2 separate regions of the Homo sapiens genome follow, and region 2 is linked to region 1. Evidence: fine-mapped expression QTL. Tissue or cell type: thyroid. Region 1 holds a variant in brackets; the other region holds the start of a gene. All regions are shown on one strand. Distances are from middle to middle.

What was found. PIP is the estimated chance that this variant, and not a neighbour inherited with it, causes the effect.
Region 2: THSD7A starts here. The variant in region 1 is fine-mapped to the expression of THSD7A in thyroid (GTEx, PIP above 0.99).

What each region holds. Positions count from the first base shown.
Region 1 is chr7:11,480,577-11,486,696 of GRCh38, reverse strand. It overlaps THSD7A (thrombospondin type 1 domain containing 7A), which reads left to right. Exons shown (of 28, transcript NM_015204.3): 7 at 4,715-4,909. Among named protein-coding and RNA genes, the nearest start is that of THSD7A, 350 kb to the left of the region's middle. The variant G/A (reference allele first, on the strand shown) is at 3,075.
Region 2 is chr7:11,829,501-11,835,620 of GRCh38, reverse strand. It overlaps THSD7A (thrombospondin type 1 domain containing 7A), which reads left to right and starts at 3,423. Exons shown (of 28, transcript NM_015204.3): 1 at 3,423-3,864. The coding sequence starts at 3,675. RefSeq lists enhancers at 2,746-3,285, 3,286-3,826 and a silencer at 5,384-5,678.

The DNA of each region.
Region 1 (6,120 bases):
ACGAAGAGAAGCATAAGGAGGATTCTAAATGTTTGTGACATCACAGTCAAAATCTAGCTAAGAAATTGTCCTCAGAGAGACTAAAGAAGAAAAACAAGTTGCGTTGGTTCATACCTACACCAGTGATAGAACTACACAAATCACAGTAGTGATAATCAGATGTGTCTGTCCAGATTTAATGGGATGCACACTTGGATAATCAAAGTCTCAAATAGTTCTATAGTGGGGACATCTGGTGGATGAATATGTCCTAACTGTGGGGCTGCTGATATGAAAAAGTGGAATTCCCATAGTGCTAGGCAGCAAAACTTCCATTTCTCCAAATAGAGGAGTATAAATTAACCTGATATTTAGATATGTGCGTGTTTAATGTACTCCTATATATACTCTGAAGTAATGTTATGCAAAACAGTTCTTATCCAATCAAAATAAAGTGTATCAATCCAAAACAAAATTTAATGTGAGGAAGAGGGATGAAATTATTTTCTGCTACTCTTGTAAGACCTTAAGAGTAGAGTAAGTTCTTATAAGTAAGATTCAATTAACCTTATAAGTAAGATAAAATTAATAGCCTCAAAAAGTGGCTGGAATTGACAAGTTATGAAGTTGCCTGTAATAGCCATTGACCCAACTTTTTATTTGATTTTATTTGCCTATGGTTTCCCAGATGACTTATGCCTGGAATGCTGAAGATTTAGCTTAAAAAGAAGACAGCTCCTAAGGGTTCCAATTAGCTGAGTTGATTAAAGCATTCATTGAAAGCAAAATCAAAAATTTAATTATTCCATATTCTCATAGATCAGTTGCTGTTTGTTCAATGGCTATGAGCCAAAACATGTCCCACTGGACTCATCAACAATGCATGTCTTTGTATTTGAAGCACTGTGTGGCTGGCAACATGCATCACTGTGTTGACAAACAACTTGAGAGTGCCTGTTTCTTGACTTCTTTGGAGGCAAAGCCTTATCTATTATTTACTGCCTTGGCATCCTCAGTTCTCCACCAAGAAGAACCCCAATCTAGTTCAAAAGCAGATTGGGGTATTGGTGAAAACTCATTTCAATTCTCTGTTCCTTTAGTCAAACTTTTGCTATTTGAGAAAGATAACTTAACCTTTTTGAGTCTCAATTTCTTTTAAAGTAAAAAATAGATAGTAATACTGATGTCAAAAGGTTATTGTGAGAATTAGCTGAGGTGATGTATACAACATTCATACATTCTTAGCATAGTGCCTGACAGAAGATGGGCATTCAGCAACTATTCATTGAATAAATGTTTTCAGCCATGGATACTCTGTGTGAAGAGAAGTATAAGGAGAATCTCCACAGAGAAGCAAATGCTATTAGGTATGAAGTCCAGATGAATTTGTTTTACATACCTGCCTGTCAAGAGACAATCTGGTTCTAATCAAACCAGAAGACAATAAATGGAGAAAAATTCTAGAGCATTGTTTCTTAGATTTGATATGCATAGAAATTACCTGGGGATCTTTTAAGAATGAAGGTTGAGTCTGGGTGCGGTGGCTCATGCCTGTAATCCCAGCACTTTGGGAGGCTGAGGCAGGCAGATCATGAGGTCAGGAGTTCGAGACCAGCCTGGCCAGTATGGTGAAACCCCTTCTCTGCTAAAAATACAAAAATGAGCCGGGCATGGTGGTGCATGCCTGTAGTCCCAGCTACATGGGAGGCTGAGGCAGGAGAATCGCTTGACCCTGGGAGGTGGAGGTTGCAGTAAGCCAAGATCTCACCACTGCGTTGCAGCCTGGGCAACAGAGTGAGACTCCGTCTCCACAAAAAAAAAAAAAAAAAAAAAAAAAAAAAAATTAAGGTTGTGATTCAGTGGGTTGAGTCTGAGAGGCTGCATTTCCAGCAAACTCCAGGGGATGCATGTGCTGCTATCCACTAAATACACTTTCGGGAGGCCCTAGAGCACTCGAATGCATGACAAGAAATACTGTGCTTAGATCTCTATTTGTCTAGACCAACATTCTATTTCCTAGCACAACTTAAAATTTATGTATTTATTTAACAAAAAATGATTTAGTGCTTCCTACGTGTCGGGCACTATTCTAGGTTCTAAGTATGAAGTAGCAACCAAGACAGATACGGATAACACCCTCATTTAGTCTAGTGATAGTCAGACAATAAACATATTAACCAATTAATTAAAATAGTTTCTAGTGGTGATTAAAAGTATAATGAAAATAAACTGAAGTGACTGGGAGAGTGTGTATGGTCAATGAAATCTCCTCTAGGAAGGAGAAAATTGAACTGAAACCTGAATGTTGAAAAACAGGATTCTGTGTAAGACCTGAAATTTTCATACAAAGTGAAGAGAAAGTGCAAAACTGCTGAGACAACAATGGGCTTCGTTTGCAGGAGGAAAGGGAAAAAAGTCATTATGGCCAGAACATAAAGCTTCAACCTAAATGTGAGACAGTGATCAGAACAGTAAAAAGGGACAAGATCATACCTGGAAGGGTTGGGGATGGTACAGAAATCATTCTAAAACCATCAGGGAAATCTCAGATGTTGGATCTTAGATGGGTCTTAATAGCTCCACAGAGGATTAAGGGTGGTAGAAGGAGTGATCCTACAGGAAAGTACACCTGGCCAAGCAGAACAAGATGATTGAAAAAGAGCTAAAATAAGATATGGGACACAAACTGGGCGGATGGGGGGCAGGGGGAGTGCGGAAAAAAGCATAACTTAGAAGAAAGGTCAAAATTGCACATTTCTTTGGTTTACATGACAACAAACAAAAATGCATTACTTACGCTAGGCAAGCTAATCTAATGGCACCCTTGTAGCAAAGTCTGCATTGCCACAGAATAAATATTTTTCTGAATAGAAAAGATTAGGTAACTATTAGAGGATAAATAAAAATATGACGTTTGTTAGCTATAGACTTTAGCCCCAAACTTTTCTTGCTTTCCACAGAATATTGGAAACAAAAGTGAGAGAAGGTAGATGGTACAATAAAAGACAGCAGTGAAGAAAATAAGATATAAGAGAGCACCCCTTGCACTAAGAAAAAGCCTAGTAGAAAAAAGAGTCATCATTATTATGTCAAGT[G/A]TAAAATATTAAATGCCTTATACAATAATGATTTTCATACTCTACCTATGTACCTATATATCTACTATCTGTTTAGTACATTTTTTTAATTGGGATACATGCCAAAACCCAACACCAATAAAAACAAAATTTGAGAGCTCCCACAGATTAGAGTAGCTAAATAAGAATGAATAATAAAATATTTACTCAATTGCAATTTTAATGAGCCTTCTTTACTTACTAGTGAGTAAGTCTAATGATTTAAGGCCTTGCAATGTAATGGCTATTAACACGTAGGTGCATTCCAATTGACTTCTGATTTTTGTCTCATGATTAAAGGCTCTGCAAGCTAGTAGCTATTAACATATTAGAGCATTTGCAATTTACTCTGATTTTCTGTCTTGTTTTTAAAGCATATGAATAAAGGAGTGTACATTAAAATGATGCTCCTAACTCCCCAAGTGAGAAACAGCTTGGACTATTTTGTTCAGTAGCCTCTGTAAGGAATGGCAAGGTGAGTCACCCTTTCTCACCTGAATGCCTAATGCGAGGCACACACTTTTTATATATTCACCCAGAATTATGATTATATTCTGTGCCAAAATAGCAGGTTAATTTTTGTTTGATTGTGTATGATTTCATTCTGTTCTGTTCCCTTGACCTCGTTAACCACCTATATTAATCAACTAAACCATAGAGTTCAGACTTTTTCTCCTACCCTGTTTTGGTTATTCTGTTGGTTGTTTTTGGCATTTATTAACAGCAACAATGTTTTGTTTCTCATTGGCCTTTTATATATCTCATTTCACGCATTCAGCAAATATTAAATAAGTGTCCATTTTTGGGCCAATCTCTAGAGTGTCAAGGGCAAAATGAGGGAGTGAAGTGAGATGAGGCTAGGAAGAGAAACACAGCGAGGTCATTTGAGGTCGAGGTCTTGTAAACTTGAAAAATCTGCCCTTTATCTTAAGAGCAACAGGGAACTAATGAAAAATATTAAGCACTGGAGTGACATCACATTACTTCTGCCATTTGTTTGTTTTCTATTGTTTCCCTCCCTCTCCAACTGGGATCACCTTAAGCAGTGACTTTATAATGTTATCCCATCATTTACATTTCCTGTCTATTTCCAACTAACAAACAATTTTTTACGAAAGAAGAAGGTTGCCAATTGTATGAAAATAACTACTCTGAGAGACACAAGAGAGTTTGTAAATAGACACCTATTAGTTGGTTCATGAAAACATATGATAGATGCTATGGATAGAGTCATTATTTGTAAATCATAGCTCATCTCCAAAAAAGAAAGAGGGGACATGCTTTGTTGATGCTCCTTATTACAACTTAAGAGTACAAGTATAAAAATTAGTACTTAATGGGCAGGTGTCTGTGGCATAAGAATCGTCTCAGCAATGTGCTTGATATACCCTGATAATGAAAGAAGCCTCATTTAGGGTCATGAGTGTATATGTGTGTATATATGCTTGTTCCTGGTGTTCTATTAACATCTGGCTATAGTAGGCAATCCCTCTTTTGGCTACGTTTTTTTAAGTAAGAGCAAAAGAAAGATAATGTAACTTATCTGGGTGCCCATCTGGTTTAAATTGCTCATTTTACATTAATTTAACAATAATAGCTGTTGGTGGTCATGTTTTCCCCAGGAGAAGAAGTTGACAGACAGCTGTGCAGAGATGCCATCTTCCCCATCCCTGTGGCCTGTGATGCCCCATGCCCGAAAGACTGTGTGCTCAGCACATGGTCTACGTGGTCCTCCTGCTCACACACCTGCTCAGGGAAAACGACAGAAGGGAAACAGATACGAGCACGATCCATTCTGGCCTATGCGGGTGAAGAAGGTGAGTCGCCAGCTTCAGACGCCATCTAGGTTCGTTTCAAAAGTTAGTGTGCATCTTTTTTGTGTAGCCTGGAAAAGATGATATTCTATGAAAGTCAACAACCAGAAATTCAGCCATCCAAGATTTAATATCTGTTGATGTGTTGAGCAATTTGATTCTGTCCCCCAAAATTAATCTTGAAAATGGATCTCTAACAAAGGAGAAAGACTTTTTAAAAGTGAACTCATTTTGCTTTTTCCCACCCTTCCAGTCATTAGAGTTCTTTGTAAACCAAAGTGTTAGGCCTTTAAGAAGGTCTGAAAATGGCTCCCAAAATTTCAGATGTTTCATTGTTTTTTTCTGAATTTCAGAAGTCAGTTTTATCTTTTGAAAATCATATTCTACCTTCTCATAAATAAGTATATATATCCAATCATAAAGTTTATTTAAAATCACAAGAATAGCTACTGTTCGACCAAAAATTGCAATTTTCAGTTTCTTTGAGTTTCTTGAACATAGGCTCCGAGGTCCAGAAATCTCATATGTAAATTTTGTTCATTTTTAAAATATGTTGCTCCTAAATCTCTTCACCCTATAGGGTGAATAAAGCATGTTTGTCACATATTCAGACCTCACTTGCAAGCTTTATTGCCAAGAAATACAAGGCTCTTGGTAATTGTCTCTCAAGATGATATCCAAATGCTAATTTGGCTTCTGTGTGACTGGGTAATATAATGTCATACTTAATCTTGTCTTTCTGAAAAATAACACAAGAGTGAGAAAAGCATAAAAGTAAATCAAGTTTGTTCATATTAAGGCATGTTCTTTCTCAAGAATATAAGTGTATGTTATTTAAACATTATCAAGCTAAATGACTCTTTGTTCACATTTAGCACTGATAAATAATTATTTCTATTTGTAATAAGCATAACATTTTATGTTTTCCCCAAATTATCGATTTGGGGGGAGTTTTGTGTTGCCTATACTTTTTCTATTTTTCTGTTCATGAAGTATTTTAGTGATAGAAACATAGTGTTCCTAGTCAAATTTGCTATCTGTGTGTGTAACAACTGTGCACACCTATAATTACCTTGGCCTTTGCACATGAGTGTTACATGCGTAAAACATTTTACACACAGAAAAGCCAACCTGTGTGAAATTTTAGAATTTTCTTTATAGTGTTCAAAAACTTTTTCCTACCACCTTAATATATATTTAACTCTTTGCTCCAA
Region 2 (6,120 bases), 350 kb before region 1:
GTCACAAGCCTTAAATTTGTTAAACAAACAAACAAACAAAAATATGTGTAAAGCACAGTAAAATGAGGTGTACCTATAAACTTGGTGGGTGGGTGTCAAGGGAAGGGGAGGATAGAAAGAAGCCCAAAATAAATTTTGTCTCATCCAAATCTTGGTCAAGTGTGACACCTAGAGGTTGCACAAATAGAATTCCTTTGGGTATTTTTTATTTTTTAGGATGCAAAATGCATTTATGTGGAGAATTATTTTTAAGTTTTTATTTCAAAATGGACATCTTTAGATATTTCCATATGTAATACTATCAATAAATAACTATATTTCTTCACTTTTTTATAATTATAAAACTGTTGATGTTAAAAGTTGTTTCCCTTTCCATCAAGGAACTGAATATTTCATAATTGTTTTAAAATATTGATACTAATGACTAAAAGTCATTGTCATGAGTCTCATGAGTTGTAATATATATTTATATGTTTATGTTCTAATAAAAGAGAAAACAGATGTGTATAGGTATGTTCACATCCTTACCTCTGGAGTTTAGAAATGATAGCAAAATTAATAGAGGCAGAATAAAGACACCTATCACATGAGAGGTGATAAGTTTAGAATTTTTTCATTTCTAAATATTAAAAAAATATGCTTTGCATTTGTCATTCATTGGTTTGGAGAACTTTTATCGCACTGGCTCATTAATATTTGAACAGTTCTCCATGAAAAATGACGAACGATTTACTTCATGGCAGGCTGTACAGATGGTCAATTTAATCTGCATCCTTGAGACTTCTCATGACTAAATTTTGACATCATGTCATTAAACATTTGTGTATTATTATTTATGTCATATTCTAGGAAACAAATATTGCTATGTCTTGCTATCTCTTGCCATCTATCAGTTTTATTGATAGGATTTATCTACCTAGACACTATACCTTTCACAAAGGAACACATATCAGGATATATACATCACTTTTGTCTCCTCAGAGACCCATACATTTTTGTCCTCAAGTGCAATAATGACATTGTTATGAACAAATGTGTGGCAGGTGTGGAGACAAATGTTTATATGACTTGGATTCTCTAACCTTGTTCAGAGATATCTTTGCTGATGATTGTGTGTGTTTGTGTATGTGCATGTGTGTGTGTGACTCCTAGGCCTTGTGTACGTTGAAATTGAAAGAAGGAAACCAAATGTTGGCTATTTTGAAACAGTACTGCAGAACATATCACCATAATTGTGTATTGTAAATGGCAGCAAATTGGAACCTAGAAATTGACCCCGTATAATGCTTGAATTTGTAGCTATGATGTTTACACTCTTGACAAGTTGAGTTATTATTATACCACCATGGGTAAATATAAAGGTCAGAATCTTAAAATTTCTTTTGACAATAAGCTATTAAGTATAGTGTCGGATGGCTTTTTGAAGGGCTAGGTAAATGACCTTGCACATTAACTTAATTCCTCAGACTCTCTGTCCTCTGTTATATAATGAATTCCCACTTGGTGAATTGATTGGCGCTTCCCACGAATGCGTAGAATGGCTGCTGTTAGCAGAGTATGTCCAGTTTGAAATACTTCCTGTGCCAGAGTTAGAGGATTTCAAGGTTTAGGGCACTAACAGTAGCTGAGAAATACAAGCAGAAAGGATGGGAAAATGATTCCTTGTGGAGTGGACATGGAAATTTTCCTGAAACGACAGAACCCAGGAAGCAATAGCAGGTCCCATTTCCTTCTGTGGTGTAACTGTCAAAAGAAGTGATCCTTCAGGGAACCATACATTAGTTAAGATCAGGCTTCCTTTTTATTCCTTATCAACCTATAATCTTTTGATTGTTGCCTGTTTTTCACGAGTGAAGAAATAGTAAGCCACACTAGCTTATCTCTCCTAATCACAGACTCACAGCGCTCGGGCTCTCTGAGCTTTTAATTCCTTCTTAGAGGCCTAACAGAGCGGAAAGTAAACAAAGACCAAATTTGCAACCTTCAACGTAGCTAATTTCCTCTGATGTCAGAATACTTAAACAGGCAGGACCTGGGAATTATTTGATCAAACCCGCTTTTAATCTAATGCATGCAGAGGGGCTGTGTCTGGAAGGCTTTGCAAAATGACAAGGGTCCCAAGGGAGCCTTATGGAAGGTTTCCTCTTTCAGAAAGAGTAGCTTCCTCATCTTAAACTCTAGGGTAGCTATGTTGGAGTAAATTCATAAAAAGTAGTTTTCCTGCTTTTAAAATTTTATTTTATTTGGCTGAAAATTGCTGATGGGATAGTAGTTTTCTTTGGCTTTCCGTTTGCTGAATTTTTAATGGTTAAATGCCTACTATTTTAGCTTTACTGTGAAATGAATTAATAATAAAATATATTATTATTAGCTAAAGGGAGAAGGAGAAAGGGGAAAGCATTATCCGACTTCACACACATTCTTCTATTACTACTGGTAGAAGAAAGTGAAAACACAAAGGACAAAAGATGCAAACACATGTGGTTCCTTATTTAGATTGCGACAGGCATTTTGCTACAGTAAGAGTTAAGAAAAATCGGTGTCAGGGAAATTTTAAATGAAGAATTTACTAATTCCAAGATATCCAGACAGCATTACTGACTCAGTTTGACTCACAACTATCTGAATACTTAGAAGTAGCATATTTTTGAGGGAAAGAAGTAGATGAAGGGACAGAACTCTATACCTGAAATATAATTTTAATTTTAAGGGTTTTTTTTTTGTACAATTGTATTTATGTAATTAGGTAGCATTGCAAATACTCATTAACACTAATTCAGTTTTAAAGGCTATTAAAAGACAATTTAATTTGTCACAGAGCATCAATATTGCTCATATTTTTATTGATAATAGATTAAGTTAAAAACAACATTTAAAGAAGGGTTTAAGTGCATTTTGACAAGTCAACATTTCTGCTCTCGTGTTTTCACACCTGATCTCAAATACTGCTCCCCACACAAAGTAATTCAGAAGCCATGGCTTAAAAATAGATAATAAACACTGATGCTTTGTGTAAATACGTACTAAGAATAGCATGCCACTAGATCTAGCATTTGACTCCTTGGATGACAGTGAATATCAATGCCTGTTATTTGTCATTCTGAAATCTGCCGGGTGATGATTCTTTTTATTGGTGCATCCTTCCAAACATATTTCATCGCACCATGTGCACCGGAGTTCTTTAGGCGGGTATGTCGGAGGTGGGTGTCGCCTGGCTGGCCCCTCTCCCCTTTGCTCGCCCCCTTTCTCGCCCTCGCGCTCTCGCCTCCCTCTGCCTCCAGCCCCCTCTGCTCCTTTGGGCTCACGCCCCCCTCCTCCCCCTCCAGCTGGCGGGGGCTGCGCTGCCTCCCAGACCTAGCAGACCTGCTCAGTCAGCTGGGGCCCCCTGAGGACAGTTGCCTCCGGAGCCGCCGGGACCTGCCATTCTGCGAGGAATGGCAGCGGCAGCAGCATCCCCGCCAGAGGCGGCGGCGGCGGCGGCAGCGGCCACGGCCACCACCGCGGACGCTATTGTTCCCTGGTGTTAGACGCGCTCTCCCTCCTTCTCATCTGAAGCGAACAATAGCAGGAAAGAGCTTTGCTTTCTGTACTCTTTGAAAAGACGTTCCAAGAGCGGAGAAAAATTCCCTGCCGAGCGTGCTACGGCTCTGGACCCTGGAGTGGCTGCAGGCGGCATGGGGCTGCAAGCCAGGCGCTGGGCGTCCGGGAGCCGGGGCGCTGCGGGGCCGCGCCGGGGCGTCCTGCAGCTGCTGCCGCTGCCGCTGCCGCTGCCGCTGCTCCTGCTGCTGCTGCTACGCCCGGGCGCCGGCAGGGCTGCGGCGCAGGGCGAGGCGGAGGCGCCCACCCTCTATCTGTGGAAGACTGGTAAGTGGGACGGAGTTACCCTTTCCCCATCTTCACATCTGGGGCCACATTAAGGAGCTGGTGGGCTTCTGTAGGGACCCCGGTGCTTTTGGATGGCTTGGTTATGCTGGTATCCTAAGGTAAAAAGTATGATTTCTTAGGAAGCAAATAGGTCATGTCCGATGCAATTAGGAAAGAAAAGCATAACAACTAAGAGGCAACAGTGAGTAGCTGGAATATTTCTCTCGCAGCTCTGTAATGAGGGCAACGCGCACTTCCATGATGAAGTGCATTATTTTTAACCCCTGGATTTTCATTCTACTAGGAGTTTCTCAAACAGATTTCTAGCAAAGAACAAGCAAAGAGTTTAGTCTCAGTCTTTATTCTTTAGGCAAAGCAATATGCTCACTGTCATGACATTTGTGGATATAGAGTTGAATTTGTTAACTTTAGCTTTGTGATATGTGGGACACCTCAGAAACAAGCCAAGTGAGGGCGGTTCCAACAATTAAAGGCAAATGGGGCTCCAGTGAGCCTTCAGGGAAAGACTGAAAACTCAATTATTAACTAGCGAGTCGGAGGATTTTTAAAGTGTACAACTTTTAGGATGTCTGGGTTCAAACTTTCTCTTCCTTCCTTGAGAATTGTTTTGCTTTGTTTTTCAACCACCCAACAAAAGCAGCTACTAACTGCCCATCATTACCCATTGGCAAAATGCTTGGAGTTTCTGGCGGGGGCCGTGACAGGCAGGAAAACAATACGGAGTGAGGAATTACCAACCCCTTTTCTGCGGGTTCGCTTTCTCTCTGCATTAAAAAAACATTGAGAATTCCTTAGGGGACCTGAAACTTCACATGTTCATAGGAATAAAATGGGAAAAGATTATTCCTGTTGCTTAGAGCTAGGGGGTAATTTAAGAATAACTTGGTCATGCCAAACATTAAGAGAATGTTGTAGTTGAAAGGGAAAGTATGTATTCGTCATGGGGTTGCAAACAGGTTTCAGGGAGTGAGTGTCTTTTCCTGCTTCAGCCCATCTCTGCACCACTACTGAAGAGACAGCTCAGTCTACTCTACAATTGCATCACTATCGATATCTGGAATTTTTAAAGAAGTTGCAGCTATCCAGAAATTTAGTGAGGAGATTAAACAGAAATTTATTTAAAGTCAAAGTACACAATTTGTCTTAGAAGATTACATGAAACATATACACATTTTAAAAAGCAAGATTATTCTTGCTAACACCTTAAGTTTGAAGATCAGTTGAGTAATGAATTCAAATGAAATAAAATTAATTTACTTCAATTTGAAACGAAGATTTGAAGATCTCTAATTTAGCGTAAGCTAGGGTTTTACTTGTTAAAAGCACATTCATAATGACAAACATTAATCAAATTATAATTTACCATTAAATGGTATCATATGGATGCTTGGGGAGAGCTTCTTAGGTAAGTCAGTGTAGGATGAAATAGTAGTTGCCTAGTTGAAATTTATACTAGCAAAGTAACAAGAGCCAAGCAATAATTCAGATGGAAAAGAGCCCAGCCAACATTCACTGTACAGCATCTGAGGTGTCAATATATGTCATCATAAATGTCATGGTAGGAACACAAGCCAATAAACAGTTTAAAATAGTGGGAAGCTCTCAGAAACAATGATATGGAGACCTTGATTCCAGTGCCAGTCCTAGCTCTTGCTAGCTGTAGGAATTTTGGCAGTTCACTTAAATTTTGACCCTTAGTTTTCTCAACTGCATGTAAATGTGATGACACCTTCTTCTGCCTATCTGCAGTGTGTGAAAATCACATGAGTTATGAGAAAGTGATTGGTAAACTTCAAAGCTGTATGCAAATGTAAGCTAGTGTGATGAGGATGTTAAAGATATTTCTTGACTGGTGATCCTTGGTTTGGTAAAAAAAAAAAATAGTTCATTCAATTGGAAAGCAAAATAATGACTTCTTTATTTTTTTTTTTTTACCAAAGGGAAAGGAGACTTTAATATATCTGTAAAGGAGTTGAACGTAGTTCTCAAAAGAACTAGAGAATATTTAAAGAAAAAAGATATACCATAAATGAAAATTTAGAAGTTACAGAATCACTATGTGTGTATCACTTGATGAAAATAAAGAGGCAAGAAGGGAATTGGAAGAGAAAAGAGGTGACATACTCCAAAATATCTGTTCCAATGGGGTAAGCTTGGTCTTGGTACAGAGGATTATAGAGAATCATATTAATGGTGAGATTATTGAATTAAAATGATGTAGTGAAAGTTGTTACA